Linked DNA regions of Homo sapiens: region 1 is linked to region 2. A link means that fine-mapping ties the variant in region 2 to the expression of a gene that starts in the linked region. Tissue or cell type: whole blood. Region 2 holds a variant in brackets; the other region holds the start of a gene. All regions are shown on one strand. Distances are between the middles of the regions.

Evidence for each region. PIP is the estimated chance that this variant, and not a neighbour inherited with it, causes the effect.
Region 1: ZBTB17 starts here. The variant in region 2 is fine-mapped to the expression of ZBTB17 in whole blood (TOPMed, PIP above 0.99).

The regions. Positions count from the first base shown.
Region 1 is chr1:15,969,955-15,979,596 of GRCh38, reverse strand. It overlaps ZBTB17 (zinc finger and BTB domain containing 17), which reads left to right and starts at 3,496. Exons shown (of 16, transcript NM_003443.3): 1 at 3,496-3,614; 2 at 6,472-6,558. RefSeq lists enhancers at 3,132-3,631, 4,523-4,632 and silencers at 3,633-3,732, 3,773-4,102.
Region 2 is chr1:15,943,683-15,953,879 of GRCh38, reverse strand. ZBTB17 (zinc finger and BTB domain containing 17) reads left to right here. Exons shown (of 16, transcript NM_003443.3): 3 at 5,383-5,589; 4 at 6,757-6,945; 5 at 7,586-7,726; 6 at 8,040-8,165; 7 at 8,678-8,943; 8 at 9,041-9,183; 9 at 9,280-9,580; 10 at 9,985-10,072; 11 at 10,165-10,197. The coding sequence starts at 5,385. It overlaps LOC124903855 (a long non-coding RNA gene), which reads right to left and starts at 3,949. Exons shown (of 3, transcript XR_007065486.1): 1 at 3,518-3,949; 2 at 835-1,610; 3 at 1-319. RefSeq lists enhancers at 285-1,484, 2,728-2,777, 3,197-3,984, 4,476-4,645, 5,246-5,355. The variant A/G (reference allele first, on the strand shown) is at 4,869.

The DNA.
Region 1 (9,642 bases), 26 kb before region 2:
CAAAGCAAAACTAAGCAAAAAGAACAAATCTGGGAGCATCACATTACCCAACTTCAAACTATACTACAAGGCTATAGTCCCCAAAACAGCACGGTACTGGAATAAAATAGGTACATAGACCAAACGAACAGAATAGAGAACCCAGAAATAAAGCCAAATACTTATATCCAATGGATCTTCAACAAAGCAAACAAAAATATAAAGGGGGGAGGGGCACCCTATTCAGTAAATGGTACTGGGATAATTGGCAAGCCACACGTAGAAGAATGAAACTGTATCCTCATCTCTCACCTTATACAAATATCAACTCAAGATAGATCAAAGACTGAAATCTAAGACCTGAAACCACAAAAATTCTAGAAGACAACATTGGAAAAACTCTTCTGGACATTGGCTTAGGCGAAGACTTTATGACTAAGAACCCAAAAGCAAATGCAACAAAAATGAATATAAATAAATGGGACCTAATTAAACTAAAAAGTTTCTGCACAGCAAAATAAATAATCAGCAGAGTAAACAGACAACCCACAGAGTGGGAGAAAATTTTCACAAACTATGCATCCAACAAAGAACTAATACCCAGAATCTACAAGGAACTCAAACAAATCAGCAAGAAAAAAGCAAATAATCCTATTAAAAAGTCACATGCTAAGGACATGAACAGACAATTCTTATTTTTTTTTTTTTGAGACAGAGTCTCACACTGTCGCCCAGGCTGGAGTGCAGTGGCACAATCTTAGCTCACTGCAGCCTCAGGATCAAGCAATTCTCCCTGCCTCAGCCTCTTGAGTAGCTTGGTACTACAGGTGCCCACCACGATGCTGGCTATTTTTTTTATTTTTATTTTTTTGATTTTTTAGTAGAGACGAGGTTTCGCCATGTTGACCAGGCTGGTCTCGAACTCCTGACCTCAGGCTATCTGCCCACTTCGGCCTCCCAAAGTGCTGGGATTACAGGCGTGAGCCACCGCGCCCGGCCCGACAGTTCTTAAAAGAAGATACACAAATGGCCAACAAACGTGAAAAAATGCTCAATATCACTAATCATCAGGCAAATGCAAATCAAAACCATAATGCCATACCTACTCCTGCATGAATGGCCACAATCAAAAATGAAAAAATGATAGATGTTGACATGGTTGTGGTGAAAAGGGAACACTTTTGCACTGCTGGTGGGAATGTAAACTAGCACAACCACTATGGAAAACAATATGGATGTTCCTTAAAGAACTAAAAGTAAATCTGCCATTAGATCCAGCAATCCCACTAGCGGGTATCTACAGAGAGGAAAATAAGTCATTATATGAAAAATACACTTCCACACGCATGTTTGTAGCAGCACAGTTCACAATTGCAAACATATAGAACCATCTCAAATGCCCATCAATGCACGAGTGGATAAAGAAAATGTGGTATATATATATAACATGGAATACTACTCAGCCATAAAAAGGAATGAAATAATGGCATTTGCAGCAACATGGATGGAGCTAGAGACCATTATTCTAAATGAAGTAACTCAGGAATGGAAAACCAAATATCATATGCTCTCACTTTTAGGTGGGAGCTAAGCTATGAGGACGCAAAGGCATAAGAATGACACAATGGACTTTGGGAACTCAGGGGGAAAGGTGGGAGGGGTGAGGGATAAAAGACTACACTTTGGGTTGGCTGGGCGCAGTGGCTCACGCCTGCAATCCCAGCACTTTGGGAGGCCGAGGCGGGCGGATCACGAGGTCAGGACATCCAGACCATCCTGGCTAACACGGTGAAACCCCGTCTCTACTAAAAATACAAAAAATTAGCCGGGCATGGTGGCGGGCGCCTGTAGTCCCAGCTACTCGGGAGGCTGAGTCAGGAGAATGGCGTGAACCTGGGAGGCGGAACTTGCAGTGAGCCCAGATGGCGCCACTGCACTCCAGCCTGGGCAACAGAGCAAGACTCCATCTCAAAAAAAAAAAAAAAAAAAAAAAAAGACTACACCTTGGGTAGAATGTACACTGTTCAGGTCATGGGTCCCCCAAAATCACAGAAATCATCACTAAAGAACTTATCCATGTAACCAAACACCATGTGTTCCCCAAAAACTACTGAAATAAAAATTAAAAATATAGTTAAAAAGAACGGGTGAAGTTAGCCAGTTGTGGGTGCACATGCCTGTAGTCTCAGCTACTGGGGAGGTTGAAATGGGATGCTTAAGCCTAGGGGTTTCAGTCCAGCCGGGCAACATAGCGAGACCCCATCTAAAAAAAAAAAAAAGAAAGAAAAGAAAGACGGCCGGGCACGGCGGCTCACGCCTGTAATCCCAGCACTTTGGGAGGCTGAGGCAGGTGGATCACGAGGTCAGAAGATCGAGACCATCCTGGCTAACATGGTGAAACCCCGTCTCTACTAAAAATACAAAAAATTAGCCAGGTGTTGTGGCGGGCGCCTGTAGTCCCAGCTACTCTGGAGGCTGAGACAGGAGAATGGCGTGAACCCGGGAGGCGGAGCTTGCAGTGAACCGAGACAGCGCCACTGCACTCCAGCCTGGAAGACAGAGTGAGACTCTGTCTCCAAAAAAAAAAAAAAAACCTAAAGACAAGAAGGGGTGAAGTCAACTGCTGGGCTTTTTTGTTTCTCTAGCCATTGTGAAGACAGGAGTGAGTTGCCAGATTGGCATATGTTGCATCCCACTGAAGGCTAGTGGACATGAATCTCTAGGGAACAGTCTCCCCACTGCATACTTTCTTCAGCTGTGCTTGGCTGTTTGGGAGCTAACAAAGAGAAAAGGTGCATTTGGATTCACACAGCGTTGGTATTCTTACCAAATCCATGTGACAAAAAGGCAAGGGGGCAAAAGAGCTTACAGTAGTGGCAAGAGTGTTGTTAAAATTATAGATTATGGAAAATATGCAGGCCTAGAAGTAAACAAAGGAGAAAGCCCTCAGACTGTGAGAAAGTGGAGAAGTCAGTGGCCTAGAGCTACCAAAAAGGTAGAAGAGGGGCCACGGAGGGGCCATGCAAGTCTGCAGACACTTTTGTTTTCAGACACCTTTATTCACGTCCAAGACAATCAGGGAAGGGGATAATGTTCGGTTTAGAAGGTAGAAAAACACAACTGGGATCTGCAGCTTTGAAGCCACAAGTAGATTCATATCTCCGGTCCACCACTTACAAGATATGTGACCATGGACATTGATTTACACTTTTTGAGTCTGTTTTCCCTTTTTTAAAATTAGGAGAATAATACTATCTTATAATTGGTGTGAGGATTTAAAGAGATAATGCATGTAAAGCGCTTAACACAGTGCCTGGCACACAGTAAGAGCTGAACACATGATGTTACTGTTATATTTGGAAGAGAAACCAAGGCAGGGGTACAATGAGGACAACTCTGAGCGCCGAAGTACTGTAAGGTGGAACTTTTGGATAGCTAGGCGCATGCGTCTGTCTATGGGCGCTCTCCTAGCGAGGACGCTGCGCATGCGCCGGAAGTTGCAGCCGGGAAGCCTGCGAGGTCGGTTCCGCCCGACTCTAACATGGCGGCGCCCTTTGTCTGCTCTGGAGTGCCGTCCCCGGCCTTCTCGCGGCCGTGATGCACCTCCCTCTGCGGTGGGGTCCGGGACATGGCAGGTGAGTGTCAACAATCGCCCGGGGCCGGGGAAGTCCCGGGAGCCGGGGCGGAGGCGGCGGAGGATGGGGCGCGGTGGGACGCCGGTGACGGTTGTGTGGGGGAGGGGAGGGAAGTGGAATGGGACGCCAACCGGGGCTGAGGGGACACCGCTGGGCGGGAGATTGTGGGGTGGCGGGGCGGGGGGCGTCGCCGGGCGTGCTGGCGGGGAGTGGGCGGCCAGGCGACCGCCCGGGCGAGGGGGCGCGTGTCACCTCCCGGGCTGGATGACACCCCAGCTGGTAGCATCTCCGCCCCCGCCGCACGGCTGTCACCGCCCCTTGACCCCGCGCGCTGTCGAGGGTGGGCGTTCTGCGGCCGCGAGGGAGCGCAGTGCCGGGGCAGCTCCTGTCGGCCGGCCGGGGCGGGAGGGAGCGGGGCTGCCCGGGCCTAGGAGGAGCTGACAGAGGAGGCCGACGCTGTCCCTGTATAAAAGCATTTCATTCATTCATTCGTACTGCGGACGGTGGTTCAGCACCTGATAGATGGTGAAGCTAGAGCGAGTGATGCGGGCGGACTCGATCCTCCAGGATCCTCGATCCTGGAGTTAGGAGTGTGAACCGTGGAGCCCAGCAGCGGGGTTTGAATCCCCATTCCCTGCTGTGACCTTAGGCACTTTTGGCTTTTTCTCTCTGCCTGGGTTTATTCATCCTTTAAGCAGAGATGATAATAAAATCAGCCTCCTAAGATTGTAATAAAGGGGAAATGAGGCTCCTAGAACACTTATGGGTACAAAGTAAATGCTGTGTGTTTGTTGCTGTTATTAATTGTATCACCATTGTCACCCAGAGCTCAGAGACCCATGTGGGAGACATACAGGTAAATCAGCAATTCTGATACTGCTGCGAGGGCAGAAAGCCCTCCTTCCTCTGAAGCACGGAGTAGAGACACATCACTCAGCCTAGGGGGAATCCCGGGAGGCTTCTGTCCCCCAGAAAGCTAAGATCTAAGGGAAGCTCAGCGGAGTGAGGCAGGAAAACGGGTATTCCCAGTTAAGGGTGTAGTTTGTGAGAAAACTCATCTTCGTAGAGAGAGGAGAGAGAGATCAGGCTAAATAAAGAAGCAGACTGGGCCGGGCTCGTTGTCTCACGCTTGTAATCTCAGCACTTTGGGAGGCCCAGGCGGGCAGATCACTTGAGGTCAGGAGTTCGAGACCAGCCTGGCCAATATGGTGAAACCCCCGTCTCTACTAAAAATACAAAAATTAGCCGGTCGTGCTTGCGCGCGCCTGTAGTCCCAGCTGCTCAGGAGGCTGAGGTATGAGAATCGCTCGAACGCAGGAGGCGGAGGTTGCAGTGAGCCGAAACGGCGCCACTGCACTCCAGCCTGGGCGACAGAGCGAGATTCCGTCTCAAAAAAGAAAAAAAAAAAAAGCAGCAGCAAGCTGTGGTCTGGTCTTAGGGGACGTTGTAAACCTAGTTAAGGACTTTAAACTTTAGGTTAATGGGAAGCCATTTAAGAATCAGATCTGTGGCCAGGTGCGGTGGCTTACTCTGTAATTCTAGCACTTTGGGAGGCCAACGTGGGATGATCATTTGAGCCCAGGAGTTTGAGACAAGCCTGGGCAACATGGCAAGACCCCATCTTTATTAAAAGAAAAAAAAAAAAAAAGGAAAAAAAAAATAGCCGGGCATGGTGGAGTACACCTCTGGTGGTCCCAGCTTCTTGGAAGGCTGAGGTGGGAGGATTCTTTTATTTCCAGCCTGAAATAAAAGAATCAGGTTTTTTTTGTTTTTGTTTTTGTTTTTTTTTTTTGAGACTACGTCTTGCTCTGTCACCCAGGCTGGAGTGCAGTGGCAGCATAATCATAGTTCACTGCAGCCTTGATCTGAACTCAAGTGATCCTTCTGCCTCAGCCTCCCAACTAGCTGGGACTACAGGCGTGCACCATAACACCTGGCTAATTTTTTAAATTTTTAGTAGAGATGGGGTCTCACTATGTTGCCCAGACTGGTCTCGAACTCTTGGCCTCAAATGATCCTCCCGCCTCAGCCTCCCAAAGTACTGGGATTATAGGCATGTGCAACCATGCCTGGCCACGAATCAGATTTGTGGATTAGGAAGATCACTCTGGCTAAGTGAAGAATGTATCAAAGGGAGTGGGCCTGTAGGCCAATTAAGAGCCTGCTAGAATAATCCAAGTGAGAAATAAAGGTGTGAGTTAAAGGCAGAGAGTGAGGAGAGATGGTTTTAGCGATAGAATTGACACAATTTGGTGATTAGTTTGATGAGAGTTAGGGGCAGGGAGGAGTCAGGATCACCCCAGTTTTTGACTGATGGGTGTTGGATGCTGCTCCATGTGATAGGGAGCAGTACGGGGAGCAGATCTGGGGGAGGGCAGATATGTTTAGTTTTGAACATGTTGGAGTTGGATGCCTGTAAAACATTCAAGTGCACCTGTTCAGCTAGTAGTTATCACCATCAAAGGTCACTGAAGTCATGGGAGGGGATGAGCTCACCTAGGGTAGGGTATGCAATGAGAAACAAAGTGTCCAGGATATCCCAGAGCAGTGCCAATGCTGCAGTAATGCTTGGATACAAACCTTGTCGTTTTTCCTTCTTAACATTGTGTCCTGTCTCTTATTGAGCTGGAGTTCTTGAGAGCAGGGCCTGAGGCTGAGTCTGTGCATCTTTGTGTCCCAGTGTCAGCATGCTATCTGGCACAGAGCAGGCCATTTATTCAGCACTTCCTTGGGCCAGGCTCTGTGCTAAGCACTCTGTATTTGTCTATGTTTGATGGATGCATGAAAAGGCAGCTCTGAGGGAGCAGGTACCCTTTAGGTTCTCATCAGATTTTCCACTTGTGTGTCATTGATTCAGGTAATGAGCCGGACGAGGGGAGCCAAGCTGGAGTTTACACAGGCAAACTGTCAGAAAAGAGTAGCCTGGGCTGTCTGGAAATCTGAGGTATGTCTGTAATACTCAAGGATGAAACAAATCAGATCAGTTTGTCCTTTTTCTCTAGGTTCAACATGATTCAAATGATTCTTTCCTGATAGCCTTTTCTTCAAAATTATATAGTAATGACAAAATCCCAGTTACAGTTTGGTTGGGAAATTGTTGATCTTACTATTATTGTTTTACCTGCAGAGAGAGGCCAGAGTGGATGATCACTGGGCAATGCTCACGCCTTTAGTTAGGTGAAATCTACAGTGGTGGAAACAGAAGTTTATTCCTTGCTCCTTAACATTCTGGAAGTACACAGTCCAGAGCTGGTAGCACAGCTTGCTGTGTTCTGTGAGATCATCTGGGAGCAGGATTCCTTTGATAATGTGGCTTTTCTTGCTCAAACTTAGGCTTCCATCTCATGGTCCAAGCTGGCTGCTGTAGCTCCTGCCATCATGTATGATCTCCCTAGGGCAAAAAGGGACACAGAGCAGCGAGCACACACTCATTCCTTTTAAAGTTCTAATGTTTAAGGTGGGATTTTTGTGCAACATGGTTCCCAAACATAAGCCAGTTCCTGCATCTGGTGCACAGCTAAAGAACAGATTGTGACTGTTTCAGTGCTGGAGAAAAAGCTGGCTGAGAGAACCTGCTCTGTCCTCAGTCTGTCTGGATTACTCTCTTGGGGGTGTGATCCCAGCCTGAGGGGAGGTCCACTGAGTCCCCAAGGCAGGCTGCTCTGGCTTTGGGTAGGTTTACAGGGCTTGGGCCCAGGGAGGCCAGGCTTGTTTATCCATTCATTGTTTCTGTGCCCAACATGTGTCAGGCATTGTGCTGGGTGCTAGGGATGCTGGCACAAGTAAGACTGAATCCCGGGAGCAGGTGCTCCCAGCCATGTGTATCCTCACAATGCAATGCAGGAAATACCTTGGAGGGCTGGTGGAGGGTGTGCGCACACAGGGAGGATGCACTGGCGCTGGAAGGCTTTCCTGAGGGGGTGAAGATGTTGCAAACCGCGCATTTTGGACTGATCACTGTAAAATTCCCCTTGGACAGGTAGAGGCAGCTAGGACTCTGGGGTCAGGTGTGAATCTGCCCTCCCGTTGAGTGGCTCTGTGTCCTGACAGTCAGTTCCTTCTGAAACTGTGTCCCAAAGAGTTAAAAAAAAAAAAAGTAATGACTATTAATTTTCCTAATCACAAGATTGTCTTCTGACACATCAGACAGCAAGCCTTTTACTCAGTTTCATTGCTGAGCCTCAGTTTCCTCATCTGTAAAATAGGGATGACAGAATTGTTTGGAGAATTACATGAGGACAGGCAGGTAATTCACAGAATTGTCTGGAGAATTACATGAGGTCAGGCAGGTAATTCACAGGGTTTGCTGCATAGTGCAGCACTCCCCAACCTTTTCGTTTTTTTTTTTCTGTCAGCAAAATATATATTTTATATATATAGTGTATATATATAGTGTGTGTGTATATATATATAGTGTGTGTGTATATATATAGTGTGTGTGTATATATATAGTGTGTGTGTATATATATAGTGTGTGTGTATATATATATAGTGTGTGTATATATATAGTGTGTGTGTATATATAGTGTGTGTGTATATATATAGTGTGTGTGTATATATATATAGTGTGTGTGTATATATATAGTGTGTATATATATATAGTGTGTGTATATATATATATTGTGTGTGTATGTACATATATATATATACATACACACATACAGAGAGAGAGAGAGATTTCCCCCACCCACCCACCTACCTACCCAAAACATGTGTCTTAGTGTTTGATTTTTTTTTTTCATACACACAGAATAGGGAATTTCAGAATTTTTACATACATTTTAGCAAACAAGTTTTGATCTATTGGCTTCTTGGTGCAGTAATGGTGCCAAAGGCTCATACTATTACAAGGAAGTTGTGAACACTGATTTCTCAGGAGGTGAGGCCAGCCCCACATGAACTTCTCTTGCATCCCTCTGGTCCACCATGATACATAACTACTTAGACTTTTTTTTTCCCTCTATTGAATCATTAGATATTAAAAATGGAACAACAGAGTCACAAAGGGCCACATGCTTTTCAGTAGAAAGCATTCTCCTTCTCTAGGTTGCTATCACAGTGCAGACCTGACTGCCTGAATATGCTCAGGAGATTTAGTCAGTATTGTCTGTATTTGGTTATGGAAAAGGCTCTCCTGGCTGGGCGCGGTGGCTTACGCCTGTAATCCCAGCACTTTGGGAGGCTGAGGTGGGTGGATCACGAGGTCAGGAGATCGAGACCATCCTGGCTAACATGGTGAAACTCCGTCTCTACTAAAAATACAAAAATTAGCTGGGCGCAGTGGCAGGCGCCTGTAATCCCAGCTACTCAGGAGTCTGAGGCAAGAGAATCACTTGAACCTGGGAAGCGGAGGTTGCAGTGAGCCGAGATCACGCCACTGCACTCCAGCCTGGGTGACAGAACGAGACTCCATCTCAAGAGAAAAAAAAAAAATTAGCTGGGTGTGGTGGTGGGTGCCTGTAGTCCCAGCTACTCGGGAGGCTGAGGCAGGAGAACCCGGGAGGCGGAGGTTGCAGTGAGCTGAGATCACGCCACTGCATTCTAGCTTAGGTGACAGAGTGAGACTCTGTCTCAAAAATAAAACAAAAAGGCTCTTCCTTTTTTTTTTTTTTCTTCTTTAAGTCCAAAGTGCATAGTGAGAGCAAATCAAAACTTTTTTTATTTTTCCTTCTCAGCATCAGTTTCATGTGAGCATCTTCCCATGAGGGCTGCTCAGATGTCTCGCCTTTGTCCTCCTCACCCTTCAAAAATAAGTGAGAGTCAAGCAATTTAGACATTTATCAGCTTGGCAAATAAACTTGGCAGCAAATAGAAGTCCTACTATTGTAAAGAAATTGATAAGACAAAAGGTACATATGATGACCCAACTACTGTGGTGTTGGGTAATTTATAAGGTTGACCTCTGACTTCATTGATGTAAAATCCTATTGGAAATATGACGGCAGCCATACAGAAAAGCATCATCCCAGTGAATGCTATCCATCGAACATATTTTGTAGCTTCTCTTCCCCAGTGGGAAGCCACCAGC
Region 2 (10,197 bases):
GTTGCATGCTCACGATATGCCAGGCTCTGTACAGGGTCTTGACCTATGTTACTTAATTTAATCCTGTCACAAAGGAAGTCATACCATTAGCCCTGTTGGCCATTGGAGAAGCTTTGCTGGAGATCACCTGCGGGTGGCTGGTGGAACCCAGATCCAGGTCCTGCTTGGCCTGTCCCGGGAGGCTCTGCTGCTTCCATGGGGCTCAGCCGCCACTGGAATCCCTGCGTCGTGGAGGCAGCAGTATGGAACTTGGCACCAGAGTGGATTTCACGGCCCAAACAGAAACCTGGCTTACTCAGCAGTCTGTGGTGCTTTGGGACTGCAAGACAGATGCAATGGGTTGTGCTTTCTGGGGCCAGCCCTTCCAAATCCCACCCGCAGGAGCCTTGGCGGCTCTCTTAGCTCCTCTGACCCTCGCTGCCACGCTGGGCCTCAAGGCAGCCCTGGTGAGCATGGCCGGGAGTGTGGTTGGGAGCAACCCAGCCTTGGCCAGCACACTCTGTGCCATGACTGGATCAAGTCTGGCAACTGAACCTCACTTTTTTCTTATTAAAATTTTTGAAAAATGGCTGGGTGCAGTAGCACACGCCTGTAATCCCAGCACTTTAGAAGGCCAAGGTAGGCAGATTGCTTGAGCCCAGGAGTTTGAGACCAGCCTGGGCAACATGGTGAAATCCTGCTTCTACAAAAAAAAAAAAATACATTTTTTTAAATAATTGGAATGTTTTCATGTAAATGTATATGAAATATACACATTTAGTTTAAGTAATAAATCCAGGGGACTCCAAGTAAAGAAAGAGAACTCTTCTAGGATCTCAGAAGTCCCCTGCTTACCCTCCCCCATCCAGAGAGAACCGTCATCCTGAACCTTTGGCTGAATCACTTCCTTTTCTTCCTGGTTTTACCGTCCGTCTCAGTTATCTCCTGCTGCACAGCACAGCACCCCAAAACCCAGTGGCATAAGTCATCGGTGAGTCAGTCTTTCTTAGTTGGATGGGTGGACAGGCAGTCGCTTGCTCCCCGAGGTGTTGGTTGAGGCCGTGCGTGCAGCAGCGCACAGCTGGGCTGGGAGGTCCAGGAAAGTGTGTCCCTCGCCACAGAGCATTGGTGCTGTCAGTGGCCTCTCTGCTCTTCTCCATGTGCCCTCTCCCCAGAGCCCCTCCATGTGTCTCCCACTCACACGGGAGCTTGGACTTTCCTCCAGCTCGGTGACTGGATTCCCAGGAGCCACAGCAGAATCTTCCAGGCTTCTTTAGGTTTAGGTCTGGAATTGGCACAGTCCCAGCATCCTGATGTCAGAGTCGTCTCTGGGCCATCCAGATTCCGACAGGAGGGAAACAGACACCGTCTCTCCATGGGAGGCGTGGTGGGCCCTGGCAGGGGAGGAATGGCTGGCCATCCTGAGAGGGGCTCTGCATCATCCGCGTCCGTTCCGCCGTGTCGGTTCTGCCGCGTCTGTTCCGCTGTGTCAGTGTGCCTGTCCGGACTCACACTGCAGGTGTCCTCAGTGCCTCACTTTTTTGTTCCCCAGTGAATTCCTCGTGAGGGAGCCCAGGGCTCTGTGTCCACCTAAGCTTTTGGTCATCAGGACAGCATCCCAGCTCTGACACCTGAGGTGAGGGAGAAAAACTGAGTGACTAGAGGTGTTGGGAAAAGGTGCCCGATTGCAGCTAAGACTTTGTGAGTGGGGGTCAGGTCAGTCTGCATCTAAAATGAGGACTCTGGGCTGCTGGGCTCTGTGGTCTCGTTCTGTTGGCATTTTCTATGGTTCTAAGGTTTTAGGATCTTCCTTAGAAGTTGCTTTAACTAGTGCACATATTTATCGCCCATCACGCAAGGTGAAGACAAGACCACAGACCTTGACACTTGTGCTTGAGCGATGGGCACCGTATTCCAAGGGTGGGGTGGGGCAGGCTGCCTGGTGGGAACAGTATTTCTTCACCCTGTGTTCCCGCACATCTGGGGGCGATGGGGAGCAGCTGGCTGTTGATCTGATTACTGTGGTTAACGTCTCCCCAGACAGCACCTCCTAGCACGTACTTAGGAGGGGATATGTTCCTAGGACCTGCACACCCCTTCGCTCCCAAACCCTTTTCCTATGTCCCTCCAAGCCTGGCCGTCCTGCTGGGTTCCTGTCGCTGAGGAATAGATAAGAGGGGAACTAGGATACAGGCTGGTGATCCCTCCAGAGCAGTTCACGTGGGTTGGAGGTGGGGGACTGCCTAGTTCTAGCTCAGCCCCTCAGAGGGAAGGACCCAGCCGGCCATGCCTCCGTCTCGCCACGGGCCTTGAGAGAGGGGCTGTTAAAGCTTCCCGGCTGGGGAACAGCCTGGGGGACCCTGAGCTCCACTTGCCCTGTGAGGGTGGGGCTTCGGTTGTAAAGTCCACAGTGACACAGTTCTGCGGGTAACACCATTTAGCACTTAGTCCGCCCCCTCCTGGCCCCCTCGAGCTGCTCTTGCACCCCTGGGAGGCCAGTCCCAGATTGTACTGGTAAGCGCATTTCAGCTGCTGCTGATCTCTCTGTGGGTACAGGGCCCCTCCCTCCCTCCCTCTCTCCCTTCCTTCCTTCCTTCTTCTCTCTCCTTTCCTTCCCTTACTTTGCCCATCTTCACTTCTTCCTCCCCCCTTCTTATCATTTCTCCTGTTTTCTTCCCTTTTGGTGCGTTTCTCTGCTGGGGCAGCCTCAGAGGATTATAGACGCCTCTGTTTCTCCTCCTAACACCCGTGTGTGGGAGGAGCCCACTTCTGGGCGGGCATCTTGCATTGGAAAAGTGCAGTCAGCACGGTGGAAAATGTTGCTCATGGGCACACAGCTGCTCTCTTGGCGGGTGGTGGTATGTGGGGGGCTGGGCCACCACCCACCCTGTCCTTGGGGCCTTTACTATTTTATTATCTAGCGAATGTGTCTTATCTAATCTATCTAGCTTACCCATCCATCCATCCATCCAGTCCCAGGACAGCTGTATGGCTGGGCGGGGCTGCGCTTGCCAGGAAGCCCCAGGGCACATGGCCACAGGGAGGCTCATCCCAGCCTTGGGCCCACACAAGGGGATTGATCCTGTCCCTCCCCTTGGCTAGGAGTCTCCTCACATGTCTCTTCCCGGCAAGTCAGATGGTTTTCCTGCTAGAGGGTTCTTTGTACCTCTGGGGGTTCAGCTGATGCTCCCCAGGTTGTTTTAGCACCTGGGTGGCTCAAGTTTCGGGTTGGCTCCTGGGGAAGGTGAGGAAGCCAGGCACACAGCCTGGAGAGAAGGGTTGGGCCTCACTTGCAAGTTCCAGATGGGCTGCTTCTGAAGCCAGTTGAGGATTTTGCCCTGTGTGGGCCCTGGTATTCCCCTCTTCTGCACTTGGGGCTCCTGGGTATGTAGGGGGTGACTAGCAATTGAGGCCCAGGGCTTGCCACCCACACACCTGTGTGCTCACGTGACCTTTTCCACAGCCAGGAGAAGACAGCTCTAGGGTTGCCGTGGCCTGGGCCCACCTCGCCCCTGCCTTTGGTTCCTTCTGCACCCACCTTGCCCTTTGTGCCCTTCAGGTCTTGATCCACAAGCTGGACATTGGTGCCTCCCCATGTCCAGTGCATAGGAGCAGCGCAGCCACGATTCTCCCTTGCGTTCCTTCAGGTCACAGATAGGAACCTGCTGCTTCCAGGGACTGAGGACAGGAGAGAAAGGCCTCTGTGCTTTGCTCCAGGTGGCCGTGTGCTGCTGCCAGCCACTTGGTGCACTTGGTGCGGGGCCAGCTGCCCCAGGGCCTTACCTCCTGATTTCGGGGCTGGCCCTGGCTCTCCAGTGCTTACACTTAGGGCTCTAGCCACAGCCATTTAGGAATGTCATTGAGAGAGCCAAAGCCTGCGCGGGGATGTGTAGGGGGAGGGAACAGCTGTTTCTGGGCCTCTGGCAGCAGCAGCAACGCTGAACTTGTGGCTCGGAGGCTGGTGCGCTGTGGCTCATGCCTGTTGCCACTGCCATGCTCCCCGTTATTTGTTGCGTCACTTCCCCCCGCTCAGCAGATACCCCCACTTGTGAAAAGTTTCCAGACATCACGTGGTGGGAGGCCTTGGCGCCCTTCAAGGCCGACCTGTGCTGGTGTGAGGGGCGTGGCTTCCTCCGGACTCATCACAGCCCGACAGCCATGCATGGCCACAGCAGCTTCAGAGCTGCGGCAGTGATTCACCCCCCAAGATGCTGATGTCACAGGGGAGTGCCTGAGCCGGGGCAGAGCTGCCGAAACTGGGGGCGGAGAGCCCCAAAGTGTCCCTCTCACCTGCCCAGAAGCCGGGGAGCCAGCCCCGTGCAGACTCAGGCCTCAGAGAAGAGGAGGAGTAGGCAGAGAACTCACTACCCCTTAGCAGATCCTGGGCCAGGGCGTGACAGCCGTGCCCAGTTGAATCTGTCTAATGTGGCCCCAGACAGTGGGTGTTGATTTTTCTCTTCAAACATTCTGAAATGGGTTCTTTCTAGAAAAGAGGGCCCGCTTATTTTCCCTAGACAATTGCTGATGTTGACGCCCACTCTGGGTGGTGTTGGGGCGGGAGGGAGAGCTGTTTTAGATAGTTACTTAGTCACGGCTTGTGCGGTTCAAGACTGCTCGGCACTGGGCCATGGAATTTTCCTGAGCATTTTCACTTGTGGGATTTCCAGGCATTAAGTGAGGCCCTTGACAGAGAAGTTGTGGCCAGGTCAGCAGCTCTTGGGGTCAGGATCAAAGTTGTTTCTCCTGGGATGGCCACCAGGACACAGGTTTCTGGAGTCAGAAGACTCCGCAACTCTAGGTAGTTCCCATGAATCAGAAAGAGAGGGAGAGCTAGGCTTTGTCGGGGGATGGGGTACGTGCAGAGCCTGAGAGGGGCCGAGTTCTGCAAC[A/G]CTGGCTGATGAAACACCGTCTTGTCTTCACCTGTCCATGAGAGAATGAGAAAATAGGAAAGTTTTCTTAAAGACCAACATGTCCAATTGAAACATCTGTCCTTTATTCTGAGATTGTCATGCATTCTTTTTGTAACAAATGTTAAAGTGACCATGTCGTTTCATTTTTGAAATGATGACACATTTCAGTGTTCTGTATTTGTTCCCTTTTTTGGCTTTTTCATGTTATTATCAGGCTGAATACGGAGGCGGCTGCCTCGTGTTGGTGCCCCAGTGCTTTTTGGTTTGGGCCACTTTTCCTGGACAGTAAACCCAGGAATACAGGAGCCACCAGTTGGTTGAGTTTGGCTTGCAGGGGGTATCTGGACTGAACTGCCCTTTTGTGGCAGAAATGCCCTCACTTGTTTTAATTCTGTCTTCTCCATGGTGCTCGCCTGGGACTTTAGGAGTGACTGTTGAGCGTGTCTGACGTCCTTTCTCCGTGCTAACCCCAACGCCCTTTGGCTTTCTTCAGCCATGGACTTTCCCCAGCACAGCCAGCATGTCTTGGAACAGCTGAACCAGCAGCGGCAGCTGGGGCTTCTCTGTGACTGCACCTTTGTGGTGGACGGTGTTCACTTTAAGGCTCATAAAGCAGTGCTGGCGGCCTGCAGCGAGTACTTCAAGATGCTCTTCGTGGACCAGAAGGACGTGGTGCACCTGGACATCAGTAACGCGGCAGGTACCCCGTCAGGGCTGGGGCTGAGCTTGCTGATAGCCAGAAGCTATGGCCGGCCCTGTGCCATGCTAGGCCCTCCAGGGGCAGCACCTGCAGGCTGTGGGATGCAACAGGCCTCCCGCACAGGCTTCAGGCCATGAGCAATTCAGTACTAAGTTCCTCCCACCTTTTGGGGGCCTGTTTTGATTGGTAGTGGAGTGGTAAGGGGAGAACGGGCAGGAAGGGCTCATGATGAGCTCTAGGCCGCAGTGAACACAGGAAAGGCCTCATTGGGAGGGGCAGAGAGTAGGCAGGCTCTATGCCCTCTGGCCCCTTTCCGTGGCAGAGTCAGTCCTGAAGCATCTACCCCAGTGCTAACTAGAAGCGTGGGGAGAGGTGATGGGGAAGGCCTAGGGGCTGGGAGCAGTGTCAGGAAGACCTTGGGGTTGTGGAAGGAACTGGTCCTGGATTCAGACTCCCAACCCAGACTGACGTGACATGCCATGAGAAGGTATTATTCTCCCATTTTATAGATGTGGAAACTGAGACCCAAAGAGGTCAGTGACTGGCCTGGAGGTCAGTCAGATAGAGAGTTGGTAGCAGAGCCCTGATGAAAGTCAGGTTGGAGTGTCCTCCACTGGTGAAGTGTAGCGGCCAAATAAGAGGGTGTGGAGGGCAGGTGTTCACAACATCCGTCCTCAATGCAGGGTGGGCATTCACACCTCTGTCCTCATCCAGGGCAGGCATTCACACTCTGTCCTCCCTGCAGGATGGGCATTTATACCCCCGTCCTCTGTGCAGGGTGCATATTCACACCTCCTTTTCTCCATGCATGGGCGGCATTCACAGCCCATCCTCCTCCATGCAGGGCGGACAGTTGCACCTTCTGTTCCCTGTGCAGTGTGGGCATTCACACCTCCTGTCCTCTGTGCAGGGTGGGCGTTCACACCTTTTGTTCTCTGTGCAGGGCAGGCATTCAGACCCTCAGCGAGCACTTCTTTTCAAGGGCTGTTGGTAGTGCTGAGATCCCCCAGGTTACCTGCCTCCTCTCCACAGAGGAGATGGGGCGATGCAGGCTTGCCACTCAGCTGTTCCTAAATCCCTGCGTCCTGCTGCTGAGTGGAGTGGTGGGGCAGGCTGCCGGTGCCGGATCTTGAGGTGGGTCTGTGACAGCTGTCCTGTCCTTGGTAGGCCTGGGGCAGGTGCTGGAGTTTATGTACACGGCCAAGCTGAGCCTGAGCCCTGAGAACGTGGATGATGTGCTGGCCGTGGCCACTTTCCTCCAAATGCAGGACATCATCACGGCCTGCCATGCCCTCAAGTCACTTGCTGAGCCGGCTACCAGCCCTGGGGGAAATGCGGAGGCCTTGGCCACAGAAGGTAGGTTATTGGCAGCTGCTCCCAAGCAGATGGCCAGAGACCTTGGCTTTTGATGTGGGCTCTGCCTCTGACTTTCTGGGTCTCAGTTTCCTCATCTGGCCCTGCCTCGGTTGTGGGTGCTGGCAAGGGTTAGCCTCAGGTCTGAGGGTGGCCTCTCTGCCTGCCTTTCCCCTACAGAGCACCCGGGAGCCGTGCCTGGTTCAGTGCCTTTGCACACGGGCAGGCTCCTAAACCCTCCTGCGGGTCTGTTCTCCTGAGCCCCTCCTTCCACTTCCCTTAGCTGCTAAGATAAAAGCCCTCAGATGCCCACTATGGGCCAGGTGCCTTGCTGTAGACTTCCAGAGGCTGCGTTCCTCCCTTTCCTAGTGCTGACCTCTGATCAGCTCCCTTAGTGCACACATGGGGTCTGCATGTCCCACACAAGCAGGAACCATCACTGTTGTATTCCCAGTGCCCAGCCATCAGCCTGGCATGGAGTGGGTGCCCTGTGAATAATTTGGTGAATGAACAAATCAGCAAACCACTACTTAGAGGTACCCTAGGGAGGACGAGGAAGACCTAGCAAGTTCTGGGCCACCTCACACCTCCAGATGGCGGGCACTTGATGGGAAACGGCAGGTCTGCCCTGTTCCATCTCCAGGAGGGGACAAGAGAGCCAAAGAGGAGAAGGTGGCCACCAGCACGCTGAGCAGGCTGGAGCAGGCAGGACGCAGCACACCCATAGGCCCCAGCAGGGACCTCAAGGAGGAGCGCGGCGGTCAGGCCCAGAGTGCGGCCAGCGGTGAGTCAGATGCCAAGGACCCAGCCGGCTGTCCTGTCACCTCCCAGCAGCCTGGGCACAGGGTAGTGAGGGCTGCCTTGGGGCAGGTAGCACGGGCACCTGCACCTCTTGAGCCTGTGTTACCCAGAATGACCTATTGTGTGTTCCAGGGGGTCTGTTTCAACCAGAGCAGACACAACAGCCTTGGCTAGGGGTGTGCTGGGGCCTCCCCTCCTGGGTCACACGCAGCCACCACCAGCGCGCTGGTCCAGGAGAGGTATCCGACCCCTGGGCAGAGGGTAGCAATCCAGCCTCCGGTGCTTCCCCCACCCAGGTGCAGAGCAGACAGAGAAAGCCGATGCGCCCCGGGAGCCGCCGCCTGTGGAGCTCAAGCCAGACCCCACGAGTGGCATGGCTGCTGCAGAAGCTGAGGCCGCTTTGTCCGAGAGCTCGGAGCAAGGTAGCCCCGCCCAGCCAGGACCAGGCCCTACCTGGTGCATCCTCCCAGGGCCCTGCCTCCACTGCGCACTGGGGCCTCCCTCTCCTCCTGCCTCCAGCTAGTCCCACCTGGAGTCACCATGCACTTCAGCTTTGGGACACCTTGGTCTTCGCATGTTCTTGAGTCTCGAGGTCGTTCCTTGGTTGACCATGCTAGCCGTGTGTCTGTGAGCACAGGCACGTCCTTCAAAGCCCTGGAGCTTCTGCTGCTTCCCGGCTTTCAGCACCGTGCAGGGGTGCCTTGCCACCCACGGCAACCCTCCAGTGCCTGCTGGCCGACAGCGCCCACCCCAGCTGGCTAAGCCCCCTACCTGCATCCCGCAAGCAGCAAATACCCAGTTCACAGGCCCCCCCGGGGGCTTTCCTTGGCCAGTGCTGGGGCCATTTACTGTCCCTTCCACATGTTGCCGGCGCCCCTCACGTGCGCTCAGGCAGAGAGGGCTGCCGCCTCCATGCTTGCCCTTTTCTCCGCAGAAATGGAGGTGGAGCCCGCCCGGAAAGGGGAAGAGGAGCAAAAGGAGCAAGAGGAGCAAGAGGAGGAGGGCGCAGGGCCAGCTGAGGTCAAGGAGGAGGGTTCCCAGCTGGAGAACGGAGAGGCCCCCGAGGAGAACGAGAATGAGGAGTCAGCGGGCACAGACTCGGGGCAGGAGCTCGGCTCCGAGGCCCGGGGCCTGCGCTCAGGCACCTACGGCGACCGCACGGAGTCCAAGGCCTACGGCTCCGTCATCCACAAGTGCGAGGTGAGGGAGACTATGGCCAGCCCTCCCAGCCAGCGTCCCTCCCCTCCGGCCTCCCACCGGCTGCTCCTCACACCCCGCTTCCCCGCTGCACCCACAGGACTGTGGGAAGGAGTTCACGCACACGGGGAACTTCAAGCGGCACATCCGCATCCACACGGGGGAGAAGCCCTTCTCGTGCCGGGAGTGCAGCAAGGCCTTTTCCGACCCGGCCGCGTGCAAGGCCCATGAGAAGACGCACAGGTACTGCCCCAAGCCGGCCTCCTACCCCGGCCCCTGCCAGGCCCGGCCTTTCACGCCCCAGCGAGCCCTGCCTCCTGTCGCCTTCTGGCCCTGCAGCCCTCTGAAGCCCTACGGCTGCGAGGAGTGCGGGAAGAGCTACCGCCTCATCAGCCTGCTGAACCTGCACAAGAAGCGGCACTCGGGCGAGGCGCGCTACCGCTGCGAGGACTGCGGCAAGCTCTTCACCACCTCGGGCAACCTCAAGCGCCACCAGCTGGTGCACAGCGGCGAGAAGCCCTACCAGTGCGACTACTGCGGCCGCTCCTTCTCCGACCCCACTTCCAAGATGCGCCACCTGGAGACCCACGACACGGACAAGGAGCACAAGTGCCCACACTGCGACAAGAAGTTCAACCAGGTGTGCGGACCCCTCCCGGAACCAGCGCCTGGCAGCCGCCGGTGGCCGCAGCCGCATGCATGCCACGTGGTGGGGCGGGCGGGGAGCACAGCCCCGGCCTCCAGGAGCTCATCAGCTTGTTCACCCAGGAAACAGGCGCAGCGAGAGCCACTTCCGCGGGGGAGCTCCCGGTTGCTCTGCGGAGGGCAGGCCGACTCAGGGCGGGGTTTGGTCCTGAAAAAATGGGGTGGGGCGGCTTACCTCTCACCGCTGGGACCTGGGACCTCTCCTGACCCAGGAGAGATAGAGCCCTTCACGGACCCTGGCAAGCCTGAGAGTCAATTGTTCCTTTGTGGGAGGGGCAGGTGAGGGGGCCCGGGGCCGAGCTCTGTGGGGTGGCCCCCCTGACCCCTCCCTGGGCACAGGTAGGGAACCTGAAGGCCCACCTGAAGATCCACATCGCTGACGGGCCCCTCAAGTGCCGAGAGTGTGGGAAGCAGTTCACCACCTCAGGTAGGGCCAGGGCTGCCCTGGCTGCCCTCACACCCCTGCTCCTCGGCCACCGGTGGTGCCCCACGCCAGGTTCGCCCTCGGTCTCGCCACAGGGAACCTGAAGCGGCACCTTCGGATCCACAGCG